Regions from separate parts of the Homo sapiens genome. Here regions 1 and 2 are each linked to region 3. The links come from fine-mapping of genetic effects on gene expression. A gene starts in region 3. Each other region holds a variant in brackets. All regions are shown on one strand. Distances are from middle to middle. Region 1 overlaps ARL3 (ARF like GTPase 3). Region 2 overlaps ARL3 (ARF like GTPase 3). Region 3 holds the start of TRIM8 (tripartite motif containing 8).

What was found. PIP is the estimated chance that this variant, and not a neighbour inherited with it, causes the effect.
Region 1: its variant is the best candidate, but not a certain one, in a credible set for the expression of TRIM8 in whole blood (INTERVAL, PIP 0.79).
Region 2: its variant is the best candidate, but not a certain one, in a credible set for the expression of TRIM8 in pancreas (GTEx, PIP 0.55).

The regions. Positions count from the first base shown.
Region 1 is chr10:102,699,239-102,710,317 of GRCh38, forward strand. It overlaps ARL3 (ARF like GTPase 3), which reads right to left. Exons shown (of 6, transcript NM_004311.4): 2 at 6,108-6,251; 3 at 135-251. Among named protein-coding and RNA genes, the nearest start is that of ARL3, 9.6 kb to the right of the region's middle. The variant T/C (reference allele first, on the strand shown) is at 6,379.
Region 2 is chr10:102,666,828-102,677,906 of GRCh38, forward strand. It overlaps ARL3 (ARF like GTPase 3), which reads right to left. Exons shown (of 6, transcript NM_004311.4): 6 at 6,904-10,114. The coding sequence ends at 10,067. Among named protein-coding and RNA genes, the nearest start is that of TRIM8, 28 kb to the left of the region's middle. RefSeq lists enhancers at 2,268-2,870, 2,871-3,472, 3,473-4,074, 6,978-7,527. The variant A/G (reference allele first, on the strand shown) is at 5,469.
Region 3 is chr10:102,642,445-102,647,444 of GRCh38, forward strand. TRIM8 (tripartite motif containing 8) reads left to right here and starts at 2,035. Exons shown (of 6, transcript NM_030912.3): 1 at 2,035-2,743. The coding sequence starts at 2,174. It overlaps TRIM8-DT (TRIM8 divergent transcript), which reads right to left and starts at 745. Exons shown (of 1, transcript NR_186489.1): 1 at 348-745. RefSeq lists silencers at 1-364, 695-754, 1,025-1,124, 1,205-2,184, 3,470-3,686 and enhancers at 673-1,427, 1,428-2,183, 2,285-2,414, 3,195-3,294.

The DNA.
Region 1 (11,079 bases), 60 kb after region 3:
TGCTATCCCTGCTAAATTCACAGTGATTAATGTTATGGTGGTGGAATTACTGACAAGAAAGAATGTTACAGTGTCCATGTTTCTAACACATGGCAGAAAATACTATGAATTAGTGCGTCAGAAGGAGTACTTACAAGAATATCGGTATTTTCAAAATAATTCTTCCAGTATGGTCTGATTTTCCTCTGTCCACCAATGTCCCATACATTCAGTTTAAAACCTTGTGATTGTACACTTTTGATGTTGAAACCCTGAAACAGGGACAAAAACATCAAGTTTTATTAAACTTTGGGATCATAATTCTGACAAAGTTACATTTAATAGCTATGTTTTTTATTAATTCTAAAGTACTCTGCCATATGTGATACTGGTAATGCTGAAAATGATTTGTTGTGACAGAGAATACAGAAACATATTTATACATGCTTGTTTCATCCAGGTTGTGGAGTCAGTGTTAATAATGTCAGGCTAACACAATGTTTTTCTACAATGAACATATATACATATATAATTACTGAGGATAACTCCAAATGAGAATAGCTCTAATTAACCAACACACATCACATGCCCATGAATCTTCAGGATGGTAAAATTTAACAGGACATTTCATGTAACTAACAACAAAAAAAAAGCTGAATCTGAAGACTCAACAGGAAAGAACACAAGCTAAATTTAAAGAGGCAAAAGCTACAAATCTAGAGGATTAGATTCTTCAAGAGCAGCTCAAAATAAATTTCCTACAGGGATTAATCAGGAAAAAGAGCAGAACTGAGGATGCTATGGGGGAGGCTGGGTTTGTAACTCGAATATATCAGCCCAGTAGGGAGGTGGAGCCCTCAGTTGCAGACACTGATGGAAACAAACAAGTGGTCAGTTAAAATTGTGCTTTCAGGCTGGGTGCGTAGCTCACGCCTGTAATCCCAGCACTCTGGGAGGCCGAGGCGGATGGATCAGGAGGTCAGGAGTTCGAGATCAGCCTGGTCAATATGGTGAAACACCGTCTCTACTAAAAATACAAAAATTAGCCAGGCGTGTTGGCGCATGCCTGGAGTCCCAGCTACTCAGGATGCCGAGGCAAGAGAATCACTTGAACCCTGGAGGCAGAGGTTGCAGTGAGCTGAGATCATGCCACTGCACTCTGGCCTGGGCGACAGAGTGAGATTCCATCTCAAAAAAAAAAAAAGTGCTTTCATAGGGAACTATGATGAACTTGAACTTGAAAAGGAAGTCTTCATTTTTTTTTTGAGACAGAGTCTCGCTCTGTTGCCCAGACTGGAGTGCAGTGGCATGGTCTTGGCTCACTGCAACCTCCGCCTCCCAAGTTCGAGTGATTCTCCTGCCTCAGCCTCCCGAGTAGCTGGAATTACAGGCGCCTGCCACCACACCCGGCTAATTTTTTGTATTTTTAGTAGAGACAGGGTTTCACCATATTGGTCAGGCTGGTCTCAAACTCCTGACCTCATGATCCGCCCACCTTGGCCTTCCAAAGCACTGGGATTACAGGCATGCGCCACTGTGCCCAGCCGGAAGTCTTTTTTTTTTTTTTTTTTTTGCAGAGTTGTGCTCTCGGCTCACCGCAACCTCCACCTCCCGGATTCAAGCGATTATCCTGCCTCAGCCTCCCGAGTAGCTGGGATTACAGGCATGCGCCACCATGCCTGGCTAATTTTGTATTTTTAGTAGAGATGGGGTTTCTCCATGTTGGTCAGGCTGGTCTTGAACTCCCGACCTCAGGTGATCCGCCCGCCTCAGCCTCCCAAAGTGCTGGGATTACAGGTGTGAGCCACTGCACCGGGCTGGAAGTCTTCATTTTTAAGACAGTTACTTGAGGTGAAACTTTGAGGAAGGTGAGCAAATCAGGGACAGGCAGAATTGCCAGGTGGGGGTCAGTGTGGAAAGAAACAAATTAACAAGCCCTTTGGGGTTCCCAGAGAATGTATTGCATGAACAAGAATTTTTTTTAAAGTCTTCTTGCAAAAATTACATAGGGAAACCAGGATTTGAAAAACCCAGTCAACAGCTTGCTACCACAGAAGAGACATTTCATCCAGAATAACTGGAGTTAGATAGCTTTGGGGATGCCTCCACAAACATTTGTTTCATGTGGTAGCCTGTCAACACTGCTGCCTGGCACAGAAGGAGAAGGCACAGTGCAATAGGACAGGAATATTGCCACCCAATTTCCACTGCGGATACACAGTCTCTGGAGGATAACTGGGGATCCTGCTGACTCTCACTTCTCTAACACGCCAATGACTGAATACATTAGAAGTTCGAGAATTCTAAAGGGAAATGGCTTAAGCTTATTGAAAAAAGTTTCATTGTGACTCACTGGCAAAACTACTTTAGTGTATTTAAAAATTCCACACTCAACAATGATATTAAATGTCAAACTCAGTAATACTGAATCCTTTCTGGAATAAAGCAGAAAATAAATAACAGTAAATCTTGGAATACAAGTAACAGTGAATCTTGGAATTTGACCATATGTATCAATGGGCTTAAACAGCTATAAGTCATGAGACCCAACAAATCTAGGAATTTATTCTGAGGAAATAATAATGATGAATGGGCAAAAACATTTAGAGATGTATATTACATAAGTATTTACATATATAATAACATAGAAAGATGTTCATGATCTATTATTAAGTGAACAAGAGGAGACAGGTTCAGTGGCTCACACCCATAATCCCAATTTTGGGAGACTGAGGCGGGAGGACTGCTTGAGCCCAGGAGTTCAAGGCCAGCCTGGGCAATGTAGTGAGACCCCATCTCTACCAAAAAAAAAAAAAAAAAAAAATTAGCTGGGTGTGGTGGCACATGCCTGCAGTCCTAACTACTCAGGAGCCTGAGGTGGGAAGATTGCTTGAACCCAGGAATTTGAGGCTGCAGTGAGCTATGGATGGTGCCACTGTACTCCAGCCTGGCCGACAGAGTGAAACCCCGTCTCTAAAAAAAATCTATATCTAGATATAGATGATACAAGCTAGTATATCCTCTATGAGCCATTTTTATTTTTTATTTTAAATATACCCATCATATATATGCATAGAAAAAAACTTGATACATTCCTAAATGTGAACAGTGGTATGTCTGACTGGGCATTATAGGTGACTTTTAGTTTCTCAATTGTATTTATTTATACTTCCTAAATTTACTACAATGAGCATTTATTACTTTTTCTAATATAAAACAAAAAACATAATAAAAGTTTGTTTTTAAAGAATATGAAACCTTGACACAATATAATATCAGAGTTACCTATAACACATCAAACAAAGCCTGAAGGTTAGAATGAGAACTTTGGGTTCCTAACTTTGAGTTTATTTCTGTGTTTGCAGTGTGGAAGTCTTCACGTTAGTGTTCTTGAGAGACACAGTTTATTGCTAATACTAAAAAAACAAAAACAAAAACAAAAAAACCCCACAAGCGCATGCACACAAAAACTAGTGCTTCTTTTTCTGGCAGAAATCTTGACACACTAATATGTGTTTTCAGCCCTTCTAGGCTAGATTACTGTAATTTGCTTGGGCTATACATTAAATTTGTTCAGAAGCTGTAAAAATTGTTCATTTGGTAGCAGTTGAAATGACTTTTCCATAAAGAGTTGTGAATCAGTAAGACTCATGGGCCGTGAAGTATGCATGCACACCAGCACAGCCATTCAAACCTGACACCAGGGTCTTATCACGGTACAGTGATGGAAAATAACTCTGGTTTTGCTAAAACCTCTAACCTTTAATGCTCAAACACTTTAAAGTGACTAAGACCAACAAGCTCTCCCTGTTGGCTTAGCCAAAGGTCAGGCATTCTTAGGATTTCCTACAGGGAATGAGTTCTAAGAAACCCACTACAGTTTTTCCAATCAGGTCTTGTCTTTTTTTTTTTTTTTTTTTTTTGAGACGGAGTCTCACTCTGTCGCCAGGCTGGAGTGCAATGGCACAATCTCAGCTCACTGTAATCTCCGCCTCCCAAGTTCAAGCCATTCTCCTGCCTCAGTCTCCTGAGTAGCTGGGATAACAGGTGCACACCACCACATCCAGCTAATTTTTGTATTTTTAGTAGAGACAGGATTTCACCATGTTGTCCAGGATGGTCTCCATGTCCTGACCTCATGATCCACCCACCTCGGCCTCCCAAAGTGCTGGGATTACAGGCATGAGCCATGGTGCCCAGGACTTGTCTTTTTTTTTTTTTTTTTTTTTTTTTTTTTTTTTTTTGTGATGGAGTCTCGCTCTGTCGCCCAGGCTGGAGTGCAGTGGCATGATCTCGGCTCACTGCAAGCTCCACCTCCTGGGTTCACGCCATTCTCCTGCCTCAGCCTCCCAAGTAGCTGGGACTACAGGTGCCCACTGCCACGCCCAGCCAATTTTTTGTATTTTTAGTAGAGACGGGGTTTCACCATGTTAGCCAGGATGGTCTCGATCTCCTGACCTTGTGATCCGCCCACCTCGGCCTCCCAAAGTGCTGGGATTATGGGCATGAGCCACCACGCCCGGCCCAGGACTCATCTTTAAACCTCCACGCTGTGAGCACTATCATTCCCTTATCCTTTATGCTTTGCTTGCTTGCCCTTTTCAGGAAAGAGGAAGGTTGATGAGACTGGATTTAAAAAGGCAGGTAATTGGCCGGGCAAGGTGGTTCACGCCTGTAATCCTAGCACTTTGGGAGGCCGAGGCAGGTGGACTGCCTGAGCTCAGGAGTTCGAGACCAGCCTGGGCAACAACGGTGAAACCCTGTCTCTACTAAAATACAACAAATTAGCCAGGCGTGGTGGCGTGCACCTGTAGTCCCAGCTACTTGGGAGGCTGAGGCAGGAGAATCACTTGAACCCAGGAGGCGCAGGTTGCAGTGAGCTGAGATTGCACTGCTGCATTCCAGCCTGGGAAACAGAACGAGACTCTGTCTCCAAAAAAAAAAAAAAAAAAAAAAAGGCAGGTAATTTTTTTTTCTTTTAAAAATTGATACATATTTGTATTTATTAAGTCTGAAAAGTACACGGTAAAATATTAACCATGGTTTTTCTCAGAGTTTTCTCCTTTATACTTTCTCTGTGTTTTCTACATGCACTACTTTCATAATCAGAGAAGATAAAGCTATTTTTTAAAAAAGAATAGGCTGGGTGTGGTGGCTCACACCTGTAATCCCAGCACTTTGGGAGGCTGGGGTGGGTGGATCATTGAGGTCTGGAGTTTGAGACCAGCCTGGCCAACATGGCAAAACCCTGGCTCTACAAAAAAATACAAAAATTAGCGGGCCATGGCGGTGTGCGCCTGTAATCCCAGCTACTAGGGAGGCTGAGGTCCAAGAATCGCTTGAACCTGGGAGGCGGAGGTTGCAGTGAGCCAAGATTGCACTACCACACTTCAGCCTGTGTGACAAAGCAAGACTGTGTCTCAAAAAATAAATAATTTAAAGAAATAAAATAAAAATAAAAAGAATATAGGTACTCAGATCTGCTGGATTTGTCTATATACACACAAACACACACATGTGTATATATGTATACATATATTTTAAATTGTAACATAACACGTACAATATGCAGCTGCTGAGGACATGTGCGGGTGGGGAAGGTGGGGCAGAGACGGAAGAGGGGTGCATGTGCTGAAAGGTGCTGTGTGGAGGCTGAAGCCCAGTGGGATGCAGATGCTGCAGTGGGGTGGCCTGATGAAGTGGGTACTGTGAAGTGTGTCTGCGTACACATTTTAACGTTATAACATAAAACGTACCATTTCAGCCATTTTAAAGTGTACAGTTCCATGGCATTAAATACATTCACACTGTGGGCCGTTACCCACAGAACTCTTTCCATCTTGCAAAACTGACTCACTGTACCCGTTAAACAATAACTCCCCATTCCCCCTCCCCAGCTCCAGTAACCACCATTCTGCATTCTGTCTCTATGAATCTGACTACTCTAAATACCTCATGAGAATGGAATCTCTTACATATTTTTGAAATCTGGTTATCTTTAGATTGTATAGACTTTTCTCAGAGACAAAACTTGGAAGTGGACAAAACTGTATTTCCCATTTTGTCTTTCACATTGCTATTATCGTCTTCCTGTGTCACACGGCATCTGGAGCCAAGGCAGTGCTCACCTGTGTAGGTGTGATGTGGCTGATGTCTTCAGATGCAAGCTGCTTCAGAAGAGTGGTCTTGCCAGCATTATCCAAGCCCAGGAGAAGTATTCTCACCTCCTGGTCTGGTGCACTTTTCAACTTGCGCAAAATTGAGAGCAAGCCCTTCAACAACCACAAAGGAGACAGATTACTCTGGGGGCACTGACTGTGATATTAACTGGATATGAGAATAACTTCTCCTTGAAAAAAGTTATTGGTTATGGAGAGCTTATGTTATTATTTTTCATTC[T/C]AATGCCACTTATTCCATTTGCTTCCTCTTTCCAAGTTTCGGTAGAAGTGCTACAGTAAATTCAGCAACTTAATAAGTAGCAGGGCTTATTTCTGCTCCTCCAATCAATCTAGCTTAGCAGTCACCCCAAATCTCCTGGGAGTGTGAACTCTACCCCATCTGTGTTCCTAAAGCCCTTTACATACACTTAGAGCAGAACATTCATCATATCAAACTAGGTAACTGATGTTTGTATTTTTCTCCTTTACTAAAGTTTCTCGTGGTAAGGGCTATACTTGTCCCATAATGCCTGGCACTTATCAAACAGACACTAGATAACACTTGTGGAATTAAATAGGATGACACACCCAAGTTAACACACGATTTTAAGGTGTTATACAAAAATATATAAAAAGGCTATATAAAATTATAGTTGGGCTTCCTGTTAATGATTTTATCTATTTCATCATTTCACATTGCATGCCTGTATCAAAACATCTCATGTACCCTATAAATATATAACACCATGGACCCACAAAAATTAAAAGGAAAAAATTTTTAAAAAAGATTTTATCGCCGGGCACGGTGGCTCACATCTGTAATCCCAGCACTTTGGGAGGCCAAGGTGGGCGGATCACGAGGTCAGGAGATCGAGACCATCCTGGCTAACACGGTGAAACCCTGTCTCTACAAAAAATATAAAAAATTAGTCGGGCGTGGTGGCAGGCGCTTTGTAGTCCCACCTACTCGAAATGCTGAGGCAGGAGAATCGCTTGAACCTGGGAGGCGGAGGTTGCAGTGAGCCGATATTGCACACTGCACTCCAGCCTGGGTGACAGAGCAAGACTCCGTCTCAAAAAAAAAGATTTTATCTATTTCAGCACATCTTCAAGACTTCTTCATTCAAAATGTTCTACTATCATCTTTCACAAGACCCTACAGGATAGGTGCATGGTATAGATAATCTGTGTTTTTTAGATGAAAAATTTGGTACAACAGAGAAGTTAAGAAATCATAAAAGGCATCCATGAAGCAAAACAAAACAAAACAAAACAAAAACCCACCAAAATTAACCAAGGAATTTTTTACTGTTAATCTAATATTTCCCTCTGTCACCCAGGCTGGAGTGCAGTGGTGCAATCTCGGCTCAACTACAACCTCTGTCTCCTGGGTTCAAGCAATTCTTGTGCCTCAGCCTCCAGAGTAGCTGGTATTACAGGCATGTGCCACCATGCCTAGCTAATTTTTATATTTTTAGTAGAGATGGGGTTTCGCCATGTTAGCCAGGCTGGTCTTGAACTCCTGGCCTCCAGCGATCAGCCCACCTTGGCCTCCCAAAGTGCTGGGATTACAGGCCATGAGCCACCTCTCCTGGCCATTATTTATTATTTTTTATGGATAGAAATATAAAGCATGTTGCTGGGCATGGTGGCTCACGCCTATAATCCCAGCACTTTGGGAGGCCAAGGCAGGAGGGCTGCTTGAGCCCAGGAGTTCAAGACCAGCCCTGGCAACATAGTGAGACCCTGTCCCTACAAAAAATAAAAAACAAATAAGCCAGGCATGGTGGCGCAGGCCTGTGGTCCCAGCTACTCAGGAAGCTGAGGTGAGAGAATTGCTAGAGCCTGGGAGGTCGAGATTGCAGTAAGCTGTATTTGTACCACTGCACTCCAGCCTGGGTGACAGAGTGAGACTCTGTCTCAAAAAGAAAAAAAAAGAAAAAAGAAAAAGAAAACAAAGAAAAAATAAATAAACCATGTTGATTTTTAGTTAAGAACATAAGAACATCTTTATAGGAAAGTTATTTGTTCTGTGCTATAGCTGATAATCTTGTTCTAACGACACATGGCTAGAACAAGAGTCAAAGAATCCCAGAGTTTAAAGGGCATATAATTTAATCTCCCAGCCCAAGAAGAAATTCCTTCAAACTGAGTCTTAGAATTATGCAAAATGGTTGTATTTGTTATTCACATTGTACCAGGCAATAATTCAAACCAGTTTGTTCACTAAGATCAAAGGATACTTCTGAGAAATAATTCTCAACAACTGCATCTTTGGACAATCATACGCAAATATGCATAATTATTAAGAATTCCTTTCTGCCTCAGAGACTCTTTGTTTACCACTTCTAGTACTGTATCTGTACTGACTTGCTAAGGACCACATTAACCTTTCTATGCCTCAATTTTTTCCAGCAGTAAGATGGAAGGTTTAGTCTAAGCTAGACAAATTCTATGCCAAAAGATTTGGGGGACAGAGATTGAATAGATTGGAAACAAACAGAAGTCTGGCTTTTTAAAAGGCCAGACTTTTTTTTCCTTTTTCTTTTTTTTGGGGGGACAGGGTCTTCCTCTGTGGCCTAGGCTGGAATGTAGTGGCGTGAACACGGCTAACTGCAGCTTCGACTCCCTGGGCTCAAGCGATCCTCCCACCTCAGCCTCTCCAGTAGCTGGGACTACCGGCTCACACCACCACGCCCCACTAAGTTTTGTATTTTTTGTAGAGATGGGGTTTTGCCATGTTGCCCAGGCTGGTCTTGAACTCCTAAGCTCAAGCGATCCACCCAAAGGCAAGATTTTTTTTTTTGCTGTTTTTATCTCATCTGGTCTTGAATACTTTGACAGCATTCCTTCTTAAAACTATATTTACAAGAAGTCTCCCTGGTTTCTATTAGCTATATTGCAATCACTCATTTATAATATCACCTTTCAGAAAAGTAAAAATTAAAATTCTGAGATCCTTAGGGGACTGGTGACATAAAAAGGCTAAGAGGAAAACCCATTTTACTACTCATCCTGAGTTCCTGATTGTAAGTGAAAAGAAGAGGTCTCATTACCTCTTAAAATAAATTATAAAACATCTGGAATTTATCAAATTAGTACATTAAATGACACAGGCAAAGTTCTTCTCATGCATTTTCTGCTTAGTGCAGAAATTATGAAGGAAGATCTGTTTCCTATTTTAAAAAAAATTTTTTTTGGCCGGGTGTGGTGGCTCACACCTGTAATTCCAGCACTTTGGGAGGCCGAGGTGGGTGGATCACTTGAGGTCAGGAGTTCGAGACCAGCCTGGCCAACATGGCGAAATCCCGTATCTACTAAAAATACAAAATTAGCCGGGTATGGTGGCACATGCCTGTAATCCCAGCTACTTGGGAAGCTGAGGCAGGAGAATTGCTTAAACCCAGGAGGTAGAGGTTGCAGTGAGCCAAGATCATGCCTCTGCACTCCAGCCTGGACAACAAAAGTGAAACTCCATCTCAAAACAAAAACAAAAAATAAAACCATATATTATATATATATATATATATATATTTTTTTTTTTTTTGAGACAAGGTCTCACTCCTAATGCCAGGCTGGAGTACAGTGGTGAAATCATGGTTCACTACAGCTTCAGCCTCCCAGGCTCAGGTGATCCTTCCACCTCAGCCTCCGGAGTAGCTGGGACTATAGATGTGTACAACCGCACCCAGCTAATTTTGTGTATTTTTAGTAGAGACAGGGTTTCACTATGTTGCCCAAGCTAGTCTCAAACTCCTGGCCTTAGGCAATCTGCCCGTGACGGCCTCCCAAAGTGCTGGGATTACAAGAGTGAGCCACTGCACCCGGCCTATAAAATATTTTCAAAGTTTAAAATTAATGTTTTGGGTTTTTCCTCATGTGTCTCTTTTAAAGAAGTTACTAAAAATACTGTTTTTTTTTTCAGGCAGAGACTTGCTCCACACTCATTACATTTGATATTAAAGAATTAAGAGAAAAACAAGGCCAGGCACAGTGGTTCACACCTGTAATACCAGTGCTTTGGGAGGCTGAGGCAGGAGGATAGCTCAAGGCCAGGAATTCAAGATCAGCCTGGGCAACAAACACGAGACACATATCCCTACCAAAAAAAAAAAAAAAAAATTATCCAGGTGTGGTGGTGTGCACCTGCGGTTCCAGCTACTCAGGAGGCTGAGACAGAAGGATGGCTTGAGCCCAAGAGTTTGAGGCTGCAGTGAACTATGGTCGGGCCACTGCATTATGGGCTAGGTGACAGAGCAAGACTCTGTCTCAAAAAAAAAAAAAAAAAAAAAGAGACAAACATAATGTTTATTCACCTTAAAAGGAGAGGAGCAAAGCACAGATAAGAAAGAAAAAGAAATCATTCTAACTATAAGGCTGAGTGCAGTGGCTCATGCCTGTAATCCCAGCACTTCGGGAGGCTGAGGCTGGCGGATCATTTGAGGCCAGGAGTTTGAGACCAACCTGGCCAACATGGTGAAACCCTGCCTCTACTAAAAATACAAAAAATTGGCCAGGCATGGTGGTGGGCACCTATATTCCCAGCTACTTGGGAGGCTGAGGCAGGAGAATCGCTTGAACCTGCGAGGTGGAGGTTGCAGTGAGCCGAGATCACACCAGTGTACTCCAGCCTGGGCCACAGAGCTAGACTGTTTCAAAAAAAAAAAAAATTCTAACTATAGATAAACTTTATTAACCTAATGGTGTAGAATACAGTGCTTCTACATTTCTAATGAGTAATTTTCCTTATTAGGAAATAATAACTTCAGATACTTCACCTTTGAGTGAAATTACAGAGAAATGCAAAGTTCAGCTAATGTTTTCTTCCAGCAAAATGATAAATGGCATTTCAAGCATGGTCTAGGGAAGACAAGTGCAAATATAATACAGCATCATATTAATCCAACTACTGAGGATGGGATCACAGGATTATCAGGGTTTG
Region 2 (11,079 bases), 27 kb after region 3:
CTGAGGCAGGAGAATTGCTTGAACCTGGGAGGCGCAGGTTGCAGTGAGCCGAGATCACACCACTGCACTCCAGCCTGGGCGACAGAGTGAGACTCCGTCTCCAAAAAAAAAAAAAAAAGTCACTGTGAGGCTGGGCGCAGTGGCTCACACCTGTAATCCCAGCACTTGGGAGGCCGAGGTGGGCAGATCACCCGAGGTCAGGAGTTCGAGACCAGCCTGGCCAACATGGCAAAACTCCGTCTCTACTAAAAACACAAAAATTAGCCGGGCGTGGTGATGCATGCGCCTGTAGTCCCAGCTACTTGGGAGGCTGAGGCAGGAGAATCACTTGAACTCAGGAGGCAAAGGTTGCAGTGAGCCGAGATCGTGCCACTGCACTCTGACCTGGGCAACAGAGCAAGACTCCGTCTCAAAAAAAAAAAAAGGCCAGGCACGGTGGCTCATGCCTGTAATCCCAGCACTTTGGGAGGCCGAGGCAGGCGGATCACGAGGTCAGGAAATTGAGACCATCCTGGCTAACATGGTGAAACCCCGTCTCTAATAAAAATACAAAAAAATTAGCCGGGCGTGGTGGCGGGGCGGGCACCTGTAGTCCCAGCTACCTGGGAGGCTGAGGCAGGAGAATTGCTTGAACCTGGGAGGCGGAGGTTGCAGGGAGCCGAGATCGCACCACTGCACTCCAGCCTGGGCAACAAGAATGAAACTCCATCTCAAAAAAAAAAAAAAAAAGTCACCATGAGTTGGCGATAAGTACAGTCCAGGAAGGCAAAGCAGGTGGGGGCACAGGGGATACCAGAAGGGGAGGGGGTGTGGAAGTGTTTACAGGGAGGACTGGGCAGTCTGGCTGAGGAGGTGGCATTGAGCAGAAACCTCAGAATTTGGGGGGGCAAGATCTGGGGGATACTTGGAGCTAGAATGCTTCTGGCAGAGAGAACCAGTGCAAAGGCCTCAGGCAGAAAATGTTGTTTCAGGAAGAGTCAGGGGGCGAGGGCAGCTGGAAAGTGTTGGGGGTGGGAGAGAGTAGCAAGTGATGAGGTCAGACAAGGCAGTGAGGGGACAGGGCAGGGCACAGGCTATGGGAGGGGTTTTGCTTCTGCTCGAGAGATATTTGCTGGATGAAGGGTTTCACAGGGAGAGGGTTAGAGGGTACCCGGCTGTCCTCTTAGGGAGGTAGGACTTGAAGCACGCCCTAAAGGAACAGAAAGCTCAAAAGAGGGGGCAGACATCCCAGGGAGGAGGTCGCTGTGCACACAGGTGGGAAAATGAAATTGTAGGGATTGTGCTTGGGGGAGTAGTGAGGAGAGACTTGGGCACAAAGGCTGTGTGGAGTCCATGGCTGATAAGTCCATTAAAAAGGTTTGGGGTCAGATCAGCAGGGCCTTGAATAACAGGATAAATGGTTTGGCTGGAGGGACCCACAGCAGCAGGGCCTCTGAAGGCATCTTAGCAGGGTACTGCATTTTAATAATGGCGCTAACCCCTCAAAGGAGGATCAGGCAGGGGAGTCCAGCCCAAGCTGGGAGGCAGTGGGAGGGCCAAGGGAGAGACAGGTGGGGTTCAGGGTGCACCCTCAACCCAGTCTAAGGAGTGGGAAGGCAGGTGGCTGGGTGTCCAGGTCCTGCTGCTCAGCCAAGGGATGGAAGCCTGGATCAAGCTTTCCCCTTCCCTGCCAGCTAGCCATGGGCCCCAGAGTCAGCAGAAAATCCCGGCTCCAGGGAGGAGGCGGCGTGGAGCCAGAAGCTGCTGAGGGAGCACTGGCAGCAAGATGCCATTGTACATCCGCAATCAAGATGCTTCAGAGGAAATCAAAAGCACCAACCAGGGAAATGATGTGTGCACTCTCTTTCTCTCAAACACACATACAAACTTCTGCCTCCAAAATGGGTCAAGTGAAGGCTGTGGGCGTGGGTTGGGGAGGGAGGGCTGGGAGAAGTGGGGGCCTGGGAGCCCGGGAGCAGGCTGGGCCCTGGTGCCCACTCACCCTCCTGGCATAGGGGATGGCAGCAGCTGCAGGGTGGGGCGGGATGTGAGGATAAATATACACCTCCCATGCATATGGATCATGCTCACAGCTGCCCTGCTTGCTTAGTGTTCATTAGGACCAACTGTTTCAGGAGCAGTGGCAGGCGGGCGGGAGAGGGTGATGTACCCATTCACAGACTGGGGGTAGGGGGGCTGCCTGCAGCTGTGCAGATGCCTCCCCCACTGCCTGGATCAGCATCTCAGCCCCTGAATGCCCCTTCCTCCTGCTTTTTCTTCTTCCGACCTGCTGCTATGCCAGATCTGGAGGTCTCAGGGCGGGAAAGGGGCCTGGGGCATGAGTAAGGATGAAATCCAGGCTGCATCCCCATAGGAGCTGGGGAGAGTGAGGGAAGAGTTGGGCTGGATTGGATCCCTTGGTCCAGGATGGGCTGTTGTTTACAAACCAAAGCTTCTTATCCCCATCTTCCCAGAAGCCATCTGTAGCATTCCAGCAGGAAAACTGCTTTGGCACTGTCCCCTGGAGACTCGAGGGAAGCCCCATTCCTATGTGACAACCCTAGACCAGGCTTGCTCTGTGCCTCCAAAGGGAATCCAAGGGGGCTGAGGTTGGTGGACCAGCATCATTCTGCAGGATTCTGACGTCCTGGCAGCAAGGAGGGCTAGGGAAGGAGAATGCTGGGCTCCAGCCCGGGACCAGGTGCTCTAGGTGGGCCTGGGCCTGGGCTGGGGAACAGTGCTGAAATGTAGGCCCAGGGAAGGGTCTGGCTGGTGTCACAGGCAGGGCCAAGTGTAGCTGTACAGCTTGTGCCCTACCCAAGGGAACTGGCTGAGGGGCCTGCAGCTGGTGCCACGCCTTGTACTCTGGTGTGGGGCATAATCTCCCACATGAGTCAGTGGTGGCCTGGGTGACAGGCCTCTCTAGTGTTAGGAATGTGGCCAAGAGGGCCTGCCTGTGGACGGAGCCCGTGTGTCTCCTATGGTGAGCTCTTTCTCCTCCTGCTCCAGCGGTCTTGGGGGGCTCCTAGGGCTGTGCCTCCAGGGGGCTGGCACAGGGGCTTCTGAGTCCTGGGTGGAAGTGGAGGCAGCTGATCCCAGGCCAAAGCCCCAACTACAACAGCCTCCCCAGGCCCTTTCCTTGGTTGTAAGGGTGGGGCTGGGCACCTCCTGCCCCCTCTACTGGTGGCATCCAGAGCAGCAGCTGACTCTGGGACCCCAGGGCAGGGTCTTCTGGATCCTGAAAACAGGGTGAGTGGCAAAAAGCGAGGGCCGCCTCTCACCTACCTCCCTGGGGTGGCATCATGGAATAAAATGGGCTTTCAGCAAGTGGGCTGGCGGGAATCACAGTCAAGCCATTTCCTAGCTGTGTGACTCTGGGCAAGTGACTTAACCTTTGTGAGCCTTGGTTTCATCATCTGGGAACTAGGGACAGTAAACGGCTATCTTGTAGGGCTAATCAAAGGATGAGACCCACTAATGACTCAAAGGAGAAGCAGTTGGCTTAGCTAAATGGGATTCTGACCCCAACCCTGTACCTCTCAGCTTCAGGTATCCAAGCAAATTCTCCCTGCCCCCTCCTGGACACAGCTTGCTTTCTGCAGTTCTGTCATTAATATTTCATTTCTTTAGCAAAGGCTTTTTGTCCCTGGGACACTGCTATTCGCTCTGGAGAAGAAACTGTTCCGTGTTCCTTCGTGCAGAAGGATTCCTTAGCTCCTTTTCTGAGAGCAGAGCATTAGGAGCCAAAAGCAAACAGGTATTGTGGTATAAATTTGGGACCCAGCAGTGAAATAGGCCTGAGTTCAAATCCTGACTGTGCCCAGTTCTTCCTGTGCGATCATGGGCGAGTGATTCAAATTCTATGAGCCCCATCCTCATACTGTGAATGACAATACCTACAGTTAACAGTGTCTTTGCGAGGATTAAATAAGGTAACTGTGAAGTACCTGGTGCAAGTGGCTACCTCCTTAACTCTTTCCCCCGGTTCTGACACTGTGGGGGACTGGTTGTTGGCTGCACTTCCACGCCTGTGTGTGGTTGGTTCTGGACACACACACACACCAGTGCTGGACCAGCAGAATGACTGCAGGGAGCCAGGGCTCTCTTTCTCTCCTCCCTGCCCCTGCTCCTGGTGGCTGCAGCTTCTCTGTGTTCTGCAGTGTTGGAAAAGGAAATTACAGAACAGATTGCAATTAAGGGGGATGAGGGGGAGACAGGGACAGAGGCCGTGAGATGCAGCTTGACTGAGCACTAAACTGTGTTTGCGCCTGGAGCCAATCAGGAGCCTCTGATAAGAGCCTTTCCCACTTACAAAGCTAAGCAGGAGGTGTGGTTGGGGTGGCCCTGGGAGTCCCGAAGGGAGGGGGCTGCTGGCCTTGAAAGTCACAGAGCCACATGGGAGGGAAGGTGGGAGGTAGAGGTCTTAGGGGCCTTGGAAAGCCTGGACTCCAGACTTTCTGCCAGCTGTTATATTTGCTACCATTGATTTAGCACCTACTACTCACTGTACGGACATCTCATCTCATCCTCTTGACAACTGTGCAGCATGATTATTGCCCAATTTTGAAGATAAGAAACTGAGGGCCAGGCACGGTGGCTCACGCCTATAATCCCAGCACTTTGGGAGGCCAAAGCACGTGGATCACCTGAGGTCAGGAGTTCAAGACCAGCCTAGTCAATATGGTGAAACCCCATCTCTACGAAAAATACAAAAATTAGCTGGGGATGGTGGCACATGCCTGTAATCCCAGCTATTCGGGAGGCTGAGGCAGGAGAATCGCTTGAACCTGGAAGGTGGAGGTTGCAGTGAGCCGAGATCGTGCCACTGAATTCCAGTCTGGGCAGAAGAGCGAAACTCCGTCTCCAAAAAAAAAAAGAAAAGAAAAAGAAACTGAGGCATGGAATGTTCCTTCTATGTGCTAGGTATTGTCCTAGATCTAGGCACTTTGTTTACATGAGATCTCTTTTAAATCTCCCTGTGCTGACCTAGTCAACATGAAAATGCTGGGATTATGGGCATAAGCCACCGCACCCAGCCACACTTTTTAATTGCACTGCGCTGTCCCTTTTTTGGGCAGGGAGTGCTGGGAAGGGTTTTGCCAGCTTTATCAAAACAAAACCAAAAAGCTAGGATGGCCAGTTAAATTTGAATTTAAGGTAAACAATGCATTTTTCTAATGTTATACTGATGTCCCAAATATTGCATGGGATATACTTGAATTAAAAACTATTCATTGTTTATCTGAAATTCAAGTTTAACTGAATGTTCTGTAATGTATCTGGCAACCCTAATTCTTCTTTCTCCTGCTTCCAGCTACCAGCTAGTTCTGCCCACAGCTTGCTCTTTAAAGGCCGGGCGCAGTGGCCCACGCCTGTAATCCCAGCACTTTGGGAGGCCGAGGTGGGCAGATCACGAGGTCAGGAGATTGAGACCATCCTGGCTAACACGGTGAAACCCCATCTCTACTAAAAATACAAAAAAACCCCAA[A/G]AGTTAGCCGGCGTGGTGACAGACGCCTGTAGTCCCAGCTACTAGGGAGGCTGAGGTGGGAGAATGGCATGAACCCGGGAGGCGGAGCTTGCAGTGAGCTGAGATTGCGCCACTGCACTCCAGCCTGGGCGACAGAGCGAGACTGTCTCAAAAAAAAAAAAAAAAAATTAGCCAGACATGGTGGTACATGCCTCTAGTCCCAGCCACTTGGGAGGCTGAGTTGGGAGGATGGCCTGAGCCCAGGAGGTTGAGGCTGCAGTGAGTTGTGACTGTGCCACTGCACTCCAGCCTGGGTGACAGAGCGAAGTCCTGTCTCAAAAACACAAAACACACACACACACACACAAATGGTGAGGCCCTTTGGGACCAGCTGTGCTGCTGTGTCTCTAGCCTGCTGAAGGGACAACGAACTCTTCTGCTCCAGAGGGCAGAGCCCGGGACAGCTGCCAACTCTGCACCTTCCATGTAACACTGGGCAGGTCTGTTCCCTCTCGGAACCCTCTGTAAATGGAAGATCCAGTATTAGGTACTATGTAACTGCAAGTCTCCCTGAAGGCCCTAACTTTGCTAATTATTTCTTCTCCCTTTTTCCTGTCTGTTGGGCTGGACTTGGCCAAGGATGAAACCCAGTCTATGGTTGTGCTGTGTGAGCAGAGGACACCCAACACCTGGGGCAGGGAACCCAGGGGAGCAGTGCTTGTCAGAGGCTGAGGGGAGGAGGCTGGGCAGAAGTAGCACTCAGAGGCTGGGGGGGCTGAGGCTGCTGGGAGATGAGCCATTGACAAATTTTTTTTTTTTTTTTTTTTTTGCAATGGAGTTTTCTCCTGTTGCCCAGGCTGGAGTGCAATGGCACGATCTCAGCTCACTGCAACCTCTGACTCCTGGGTTCAAGCAATTCTCCTGCCTCAGCCTCCCAAGCAGCTGGGATTACAGGCACGTGCCACCACGCCCGGCTAATTTTGTATTTTTAGTAGAGACGGGATTTCACCATGTTGGTCAGGCTCGTCTTGAACTCCTGACTTCAGGAGATCTACCTGCCTTGGCCTCTGAAAGTGCTGGGATTACAGGCGTGATCCGGCCTTGCCATTGACTGTTTTTGTTCTCCAGAGGCGGCAGCTTGCTGAGCATTGAGACCCAGGCTCCAGGCCCCACCTGCACTTAAAGGCTCTGTGATTTCAGGCAAATTCCTTAACTGGGGCAAATGTCTCAATGTCCTCTGCTGCAAAGGGGGACTAATGCTCACCACGATGTATCTGAAGTGCCCGGCACGTAGGAGGGGCTTAATGAAGGGCTATTATTGCTATTGTTGGTATCCTATTTTATATATATATCCTTCTGGAAAAAACCTCTTGAAGAAAGCTAACCCCTGAAAGGACAAACACATTTCAGGCCCTCTCTGAGCTTCAGCAAAGAACACAACACATTCCAGGCTGCCTTCGTTCCAGCTAAATTTTATTTGTCGGATTTTTGACAGACGTCTAAATTATACATTGAGTTTTCCACATGACCAAACACCACATCTCTTCCTTTGATTATCATTTTCAAAAGGGATTATAAAAAAAGAACCTTTTGATGGATCAGACTGAACCCTGAAACCACATGGAGTGCAGAGCTAAAAATAAAAGGAAGTAAGAACTGGTCCCCGAGAAGGAAAGGAAAGGGAAATCAAAGCAAACTCTGACGGGAATGGAGAGACGAGTCCTGGTGAGGGTGACATGGTGTCACCCTCCAGGCCAGGCCGGATAAGGAGCGGCCAACAGTGAGGGTGGGGCGCAGAGTGGCACAAAAATAGCCACTACTTTAGTCCAGAGGGGAATAAAGAAATTTGTCAAAAGCAAGGAGAGAGAAGTGGAGACGGAGGGAGGGAGGAAGGAAGGGGGCAGGACCATGTCCTCCCAGCAGCCGTGGGAGCTGCGGACTCCTTTAACCCTGGCACATTTCTAACCGCCGGCATAATCGCTGACTTTCAGCTGTGCACCGACATGTTCCCCAGCTCAGCCCACATCAATGACACCCTTGTTTCCATAGTAACCAAGGGAGAGTGAAGGGGAAAGGGTGTGTTGCACTGGGTGCAGGGAATCCAGCCAAAAGCAGCCACACGGGGTAGGTCGGGAGGAGGGGAGGACTCGAGTTTTTCCCACAACTGGCTTGAGCACATATCACGAGCACCCCCCAGGCCTTGCCTGCCCTCCGGCCCCCAGCCCTCTCCCCCGCACATTCAGATGCAATTGTGCGCAGGGCAAAAGTCTCGCTAAGACTCACTGGGGACAGGAGGAGGGGAAAAGGGGTCTTCCCTTTCCAGCTTCAAATTCTGTCTTCTGGTCAGGGGGCAGGAGTGGGCAGGGAAGAGGCAAGAGGGCTTTAAAAAGTATTTTGTTTTTAAATGGGAGCTTTCAAACTCTGCCTTTTTCAGGCTTCTCTCATCTACCCCAGAGCCCCAGGAGGGTTCAAAAGGGCTCAAAGGGAAGATGAAAGCGTGTGACATCTGCAGTGTCTCTGTGTCTCTGCAGCTGAGAGCAAATCAGAACATTTACAGAGGCCGTTATCAGAGGAGTGGCTTCTGCCTGCTAGGAGAGGCCTTGGGATGGCTCTTTAAAACAGTCCCCTAAGTTGGTGGTAAAAGAACAAAAATATTTTACAGACCCTCCAATGCCAAAGTTCCATACTGCAGTGTTCCAAAATTGCAGACCTCCAAGCAGGCATTTTGCCCCTCAGATAACTTGTCCCTGCTGAACTATTCGGAAGAAAAAACAATTTGCAAGTGCTAGAGCCACATTTGCAGCCTGGTAGAAGGGGGATTTCTGATTCCTTATAATTCTGTGTTGCCTCTGTAAGGGAGAGCTTGGGTGAGCCAGAGAAGCCAGTGGAGGAGGCTGCAGAGAGCAGCTAGCTCTGAGGTTAAAAAAACCCCTCACTTTCTTTTGTTTTGCAAGTCCTTACAGGTCTGTCCACAGCAACTCTGGGGCACCTTTTCACGGCTGGCTTTGTTAATGACTTTCATGTCAGATCGCTTTTGAAGCTGGCTATGCCTCAGTCTCTGCTGCACTCTTAGCCAGAAGCAGCTGGGTATTGAGGGCCAGGGGCTGCAGCGGCCCCTTCAGTCTGCTCACACGCCCTGATGGGCTTGGGAAGGGCCACCTCCCAGGATGAGAAGGCAGCTGGCCCCCAGGGACCCACCAGTCACTGGACAGTCTCTTATTCATTCTCTGAAAACCCCTGAGCTCAGGCACCAGAACAGAGTTTAATTCAGGAGCCGGGCAATGCTCTGGCCTGTTTCCCCATGTTTGAAGCTGAGGATTTCTGAGGTTCAGGGAAACAAGCTCGTTTTGCAACGAGGGGCAGGAGAAATGTTCTGCTATTCCTCTCCAATCAATCAACAGAGGACGGACATTCTGCTGCAGAGAGGCAGAGGAGCCCAGCAGCTGGGGTGACTCTTGATTCCTTGGACACGACCCCTGCAGTCACACACACACCCATGTCCTCCCCAGCAGCAAACCCTCTCCATCCAGGAGCATCCCACACCACCAAGTTGCCAGCACTGTAAAAATTGATCTAAAAATCGATCTGCCTGGCTTTTCTCAGTGGAGCAGGTTCATGGTAAAGCTGCATTTATTTCTAAAATCTGATAGCAGCGGCCTATTGTGATCGTTTAAACACAGAATTCTTTGAGCTTTAGAAATCCTGTCTATAGGACGGCCGTGGAGAAGCCAGCTAATCTCAGAGTCGGCTGCTCACTGCTCCACTGAGCTGGAGAAAGCCTGTTTACGCTAGCCTGAGCCCTCGATGTGAGAGCTTTTTAAGGACCTTGTAATTTTTCTGGAATTAAACCTCCCACCTCTCCTTACATTCCAGATGTCATTACAGTCAAAAGTCATAAGAATTTGCTTCTCTGTGTGGCTGGCTGGGGCAGAGGCAGGGGTGGGTGGGATGGGGTATGTTTCTGTAGTGACTTGTCTGCAAGAAAGACTTTTTTTTTTTTTTCTGTCCAAAGAGTGAGGATTACATACGTAGTCTCCGACCTGCAAGACGATGAGATGGTTTAATTATCTGCCTTTTCTCCCCCCACCCCCACCCAGCAGCTTCCTGTCGGACAGACTGAAGCCTGGCTGGGCTAGTGACGGTAAAAATCACTGACAGCACCAGCAAACACTGTCTGTGGTTTCAAAACCATGGAGGGAATGCAAGGGACGGGTCAGTAAATAAATGAACTCAGCAAAGCTGCTTCTTCCTCTTTTTCTTTTTCTTTTTTTTTTTTTGAGAGGAAAAAAAAGCCCACTGGAATTGTCTAAACTGCAATGCAATCTCTTGCTCATTTAAAAGATCTCATTTTCTAATCATGTGCTTTGAGACATTTAATACTATTTCAATTATGCAGAGGAAATAATATAATTCCTTTATTTGAAAAATGATACTGAACCTCAGAGATCAGTTAAATCTACTGCTGGAATGGGGATTCTTTCTAAACCGTGTTGTTCCCTCTCTTCAAACAGCTGGAGCTGTACACAGATGGAAAAACATTTGGTCAGAAAGCAGCAAATTAGTGTTTTTCAGGACCGAATTCGGCTCCCGCAGCTCCTGCATCTCCATTCGTCTAGATTTTATTTCTTCTTTGCATTGACATTTTTGCAGACCCAGTTCATGCCATCCTTTGAGGGAAATGGGCAGAGAAAGGCAGTGTTAGTTATAAGAAAAGCACCACACACTCTAGCCTGGAGGGGCGGGCAGTGGGGGTCCCAGGCCCTCCCTCCCAGACCGCCAGCTTTAGGGAGTTTGCTTGGCTCAGGGGCCCACCTGGGTGACCAGGGACAGTGACCTCCCAGGAGGAGGAGGAGGGAGGTCTCTGAGAGCACAAGAGGGCGATGGGAGGGGGATGCCCAGCGCCTGAACTTGAGATGGGTCCTCAGGAACTCCCTCTGAAAAAATAAACACATCTGCCTGCATCCAAAGCCTGACTGAAGAGCTATCAGGAAAGATTCCAGCCATTTTTGGCTTTTTCTAAAAGGTGACCTTTGCCAGGGCATTAAATTCAATAAGCCACCCTTTTGGTGCCCCATGTGTTTACAGTGTGACAGTGTACACTTGGGTTAAATTAAATTTCTTTTTGGAAAAACAAACCTACTGCAGTGAGTGTTGCGAGGCACACACCAGGGCGATGTGCATTTACTTCTCTTCCTGCAGCACTCCAGATAGGTTTAAAAGGGTCTGGCCCGCTTCTTATAGCTTTAAGCACCAGCATCCAGAGGGACTGGGGAGAAGGTTCCCTTAAAGGCACAATGACCTTGAAAGCGCCCTCTCTTAGAAGGCTGAAGAGGGACCAAGGTAAAAATCACACAATGCCTACAGCTACCTGGCAGGCAGCATAATTCCTACGGATGCCAGGCCTGTCAGAGGTGAACTCCTTCCCAACCCCCTTTGGAGCCAAACCTGGACACTCTCCCCTTCCCTAGAGTCTCCCCAACCTTCAAGAGTGTGTGGAGTTCCCTCAGAAGCCCTGAACAAAATCCAAGGCAGCTGCTGCCATGAGTCCTTCCCCTTGCATCTGTAACAGAGGCTCACGGAGGTCCCAGCTACATCTGCACACATCAGCCATACTGGACATGCCACCGAGTCC
Region 3 (5,000 bases):
CCGGCCTTGATGTAGGGACACCACCCCCCGTCTCCTTCCGCCCCAGCCCGGGAGCTCGGCTCGCTGCAGCCCCTGGCCCTCCCGTTTCCCCACCCTGCCTGCCCCGCTCTGCTCCGAACCCATTGTATACGGCCGGCTGCGGACTCCCAGGCCGGGCCGTGGCGGGGGCCCCGGGACCCCCGAGTGCCCCTCCGGCTGGTCCCGCGGGCCGCGGCATCTCCGCCGCCGCCTTCCTCGCGGCGGCGGCGAGGGCGCCCTTTCCTCCCCGCGCGGGTGACGGGGACGCACCCCCACCCCGGGGCGCCCCTTCGCGGGGGGAGAGCCGGGCCCGAGCAAGTCGAGGCAGGAAAGGGCCGCCACGGACTGCCCGGCCCGCCGATCGTTTTTATTATCGAGATTATTATTAAAAGGGGGCGGGGACCCCAGGACGCGGGGGAGGGGCTGGATACGCAGGTATTTTTATTAAACAGATTATTCCTGAAATAATAATACGCGCAAGATGGCTGAAGGTGGCTGTGATGAGAGTGTTGGGGTTGGGATTTTTTTCTTCCTGTTTTTTCTTTTTTGATCTGAGGATAAAGCTCTGAGGCGACAGCGGCTGCGGAGACCCTGCCCGAAGCGCCCTCCCCTCCCTTGAGAAGCCGCGGGCAGACAGACGGACCTCGGACCGAGCAACGGGTGCGGGCCCGCCCCGGACGCGTCGCCTGGGCAGCAGCCGGGGACCGCGGGCTCTCGCCTTTCTGCCGACTTCTTCCAATTCTCATCTTCTTTTATTTTTTGGACAGGACCGGGGTGGGTGGAGCAGAGGTGGAGAGAAATCGGGACTTGGCATTTTCTCCCTCTCTCTCTCCTAATTTGTTGGAGGCCGCCAGCCCTCCCCTTGGAAAAAAAAAAATCCCACCAAAAAAAAAAAAAAAAGAATCAGGAGCGAGAGGACGCCGCGGGGCCCTCAGCGAGCGCGCCCAGACCCCGGCCGCCGCCGCGGAGCCCAAGATGGCTGGGCGCTGAGGGTGGCGGCTCGGCCTGGCCCCGCCGCCGCAGGCTGGCTCCGACCGCAGCCCCGAGCCTTCCAGGCCCCAGCAGAGGCCGAGAAGAAAAGAAAGTGGGGAGGAGGGGGCCGGGGGGGCGAAGGGGGAGGGCCGGGGGAGGGGAGGGGAGGGCCGGGAGCCGAGCCTCCTGTTCATTAGCAGTTGAGAAAAATTCCTTTCTAGTTTGATCAATCCTTGTTTTCCTCGGCAGAGCCCGGGCGCCCGCCCAGCGCGGAGACGGGCGCGCGGGGTCTCTCCGCGGCGGGGGCGCCGGGCCTCGGGGGAGCGCAGAAGTAGCCGCCCGGGGGTCAGGCCGGAGCGCCGCCGGGGCTTCTCCCTCCCTCCCTCGCCGGTTGCCTTTTTTTCCACTTCTCTCCCTCCCCCTTCCGTTTCTATTTGTGAAGGGAGGAGGAAGGCAGAGGCGGGCTGGTGTCTCTGGCCGGGGACTGGAATTTCATCTGAATGACTGCCCCTGCGCGCACGCAGCGCCCCGGAGTCGGCCCGCCCGCGCCCCGCAGCCCGCGCCCGGCCAGCCAGCCGGGGGACGCCTGCACCGTGGCCCGGGGACCGCCGGCCTGCCCCTCCCGCCCCGTCCGGATCTAGCAGCCCTCGGCGCGGCCGCCCTCGCCTCCTGGCCCCGCAGACCCCGGGCTCCGGCCCCTGCGAGGGAGGTGCGGCGCCGACGAGCCAGGCAGGAGCCGCCGCTGCCGCCGCCGCCGGAAGAAGTGTGCTGCTCCCAAGCTCCGTCTGCCGCGGGGCGCGCCCCAATGTCAGCCGCGGGGACGAGCGCAGGCCGCGGGCCGCCACTGCCCTAGCCGCGCCGACGGGGAGGCGGCCTCTTATATGGAATTTGGACCCCGGCGCTCCCCTCCAAGGCTGGAGTCCCGGCCGCGGCCCTGGCGCAGTCCGCCGCCTCCCGCTAGGCGCTCGGGAGGAGGAGGAGACGCAGCCCGCTGCGCGCGCGGCGTGAGGACCGCGGCTCCCTCCTCCGGGGGGCGGGCACGCGGAAGGCGCTGCTGACTGAGCGACCGTCGGGGCCGGCTGGGGCCGGAGCTCGGGGCTCGGTGGGCCTACAGCGGCTCCGGACGGACCCCCGGGGCTGGGGAGTCGGGGAGGCCTGCCCCGGCCCCCTGCCCGCGGCCGCCATGGCGGAGAATTGGAAGAACTGCTTCGAGGAGGAGCTCATCTGCCCTATCTGCCTGCACGTTTTCGTGGAGCCAGTGCAGCTGCCGTGCAAACACAACTTCTGCCGGGGCTGCATCGGCGAGGCGTGGGCCAAGGACAGCGGCCTCGTACGCTGCCCAGAGTGCAACCAGGCCTACAACCAGAAGCCGGGCCTGGAGAAGAACCTGAAGCTCACCAACATCGTGGAGAAGTTCAATGCCCTGCACGTGGAGAAGCCGCCGGCGGCGCTGCACTGCGTGTTCTGCCGCCGCGGCCCCCCGCTGCCCGCGCAGAAGGTCTGCCTGCGCTGCGAGGCGCCCTGCTGCCAGTCCCACGTGCAGACGCACCTGCAGCAGCCCTCCACCGCCCGCGGGCACCTCCTGGTGGAGGCGGACGACGTGCGGGCCTGGAGCTGCCCGCAGCACAACGCCTACCGCCTCTACCACTGCGAGGCCGAGCAGGTGGCCGTGTGCCAGTACTGCTGCTACTACAGCGGCGCGCATCAGGGACACTCGGTGTGCGACGTGGAGATCCGAAGGAATGAAATCCGGGCAAGTACCCTACGCGCGCGCGCGCACACACACACACACAGACACACAGTCCCTTCCTCTCTCCCGCCCCGGGACCACCCATCCCGACAGGCTGACTCTTGTGACATCAGGCCAGTGGCCCCTGGCCAAACTCTTCTCTGAAAGTTTGGGGACAGGGTCCTGGGAAGAAGGGCCCCGGGTCGCTACTTGGTACATTCTCGCACCTGTGCGCACAGGGTCCGTCTTCTGAGTGCTTTATGGGATTGGGGTGTGGGACCGTCAGGGGTAGAGTCTGGGTGTTGCTTTTCTGTGGTGCGCAGCTCCCTCCCCCAGTCTTGTTGCTGTAGGCCCTACGGGAAGTCACCGAGGCAGTGACCCCGGTCCTGCCTCTCCAGCTGCTGTTTATGTAATGAGTGTCCCGGTGCCGCTGCTGTGGCTGACATGATCCATGATGCTGGCATACCAATGAGGAAGTAAACAAAAGCAGCCATGTTAGTTTTCAGCGCTATTGGAAACACACTGGGGGGGGAGTGGGGGGAGTTTCCAGAGGGAGAGCAGAACTCCGGCCGTCTCTCTGGACAGGGCCTGGGCAGCCAGCGAGGCCCCGACAGCGGCTCCGCTATTTGGATTCCTCCCGAGAGCCGGCTCTCCCTGTGTGAGAATCGCTGCCCTGTGTGCCTGTGTGTCGCACGGGCCGCATGAACAAGCCTTCAAGTATCTGTCTTCATCATCCTGGCCCTTTCGCCTAGCACAGCCCTCTCGCCGCCCTCCCACATTTGGGGAGGGGAAGTGGAAGACGGAAAAAGAATCCTGTGGGTTTAAGGTTGAGCCGCCTTGAAATCTGGTTTCAGGCAGCTGGCTCCCCTGGGCTGCCGGCTGGGTGATTACGGAACCGCGTCCCCTCCCATTGTATACACCCTGCGGCCGCGGCCAATGTCAAACCGCCTCCCCCCTCAGGCCTCTGGGCCTGGTTTTGGAGCTGGACTGAGGCAATACTTCCGTCCCCTTCAGTGGAGGGGGCTCCTCCTAGGTCCCTCCCCAGTCCTCTGGCTTTCAGGGTTGAGTCATACCAAAATGAAGGGGTTGGCCTGACACCGAGGAGTCCTCTCTGAAGCCCCACCTTGGGGCCTGGGGCCTGGGTGTGATATCTGGGGGCTAGGCTGCACTCTGGTGGGACTGGGAGTGTCTCTGGGTGGGGATCCCTGGAGGTTAGTGGAGGCCAGTGCGGAGGCTGGCTATGAGGAAGCTCTGTTCAGGGCATGATTGGAGATGGGGCTGTTTCCTGTGTGGGGGGACCAGTCAGAATGAGTCACTGTTTAGCAATTAAAAAACATACACATACAACCAACAAAAGGCAGGAGGGCCACCACAGGCTGGGGCGGGGGCAGCAAATACGATTTGCTGTATAATTAGTTTCCAATCGGATGGACTAGCCCTGGGTTTGTGTGCCAGGATAGGCCTCTGGTTTCTTAAAGGAAGTGTGTCCTCCACCCCCTGTGTCCTCCATCCCCGTTCAGGGCAGGCACAGCCCACACTTTCCCCAGTATTGGGAAGCTGCTGCTATTAATAAAGATGGAAGGGCTGGGGGAGGAGGCCGGGAAAAGTGCAGAGGCAGGAGAAAGGAGGGCTGTCCAGTTCTGTCCTGGGATTGGCAGTGGAAAATGAGAGGAGGGGAAAGGAGATGTGGCTGAAAGGAACAGGGGAGGGGCAGCAACCTGGGCGATGGGCGGATGCCTGCCCGCACCCACAGTGCTGCTGTAGCTGGTCTGAGTTCTAGGGATGTCTTTAATTGGGGTGGGGGAGAAAACGTCATTATACCTGACTTGGTGTAGGAGGATAGCTTTAGGTGTCTGTGTTTTTGAATGTCTTTGAGACTGTGTGCTTCGCCCTCCAATGCACCTGTCTCCTGTCTCTACAGTTCAGGGCACAGGCAGGGGTGGGTGGGTGGCATGTGCATGCAGAGTATTCCCTGGGGTGCCCCCCAGCAGGCCCCTCATTTCCAGACTCGTGGATTGGATGGAAGCAGGCACTGAACTTTGTCGGCAACTCCGCAGGGTGTGTGTGTGCGTGTGTGCGTGTGTGTGCGTGCGCGTGCATGCGCGTGCTTTCTTGTGCCTGGTGTGGGCAGGCTCAGAAGTAGTGGGTTGCATCAGGGCCAGATGTGCAATTCTGTGCGTTCAGCAGCTGTGCCCTGCAGTGGCAGCCTGAGCCTCATCCTTCTCCAGGTTCCCCCTCCCCAGGCCCCTGATTCTTTCTGGTGCCCCAGGCCACTGGGGTT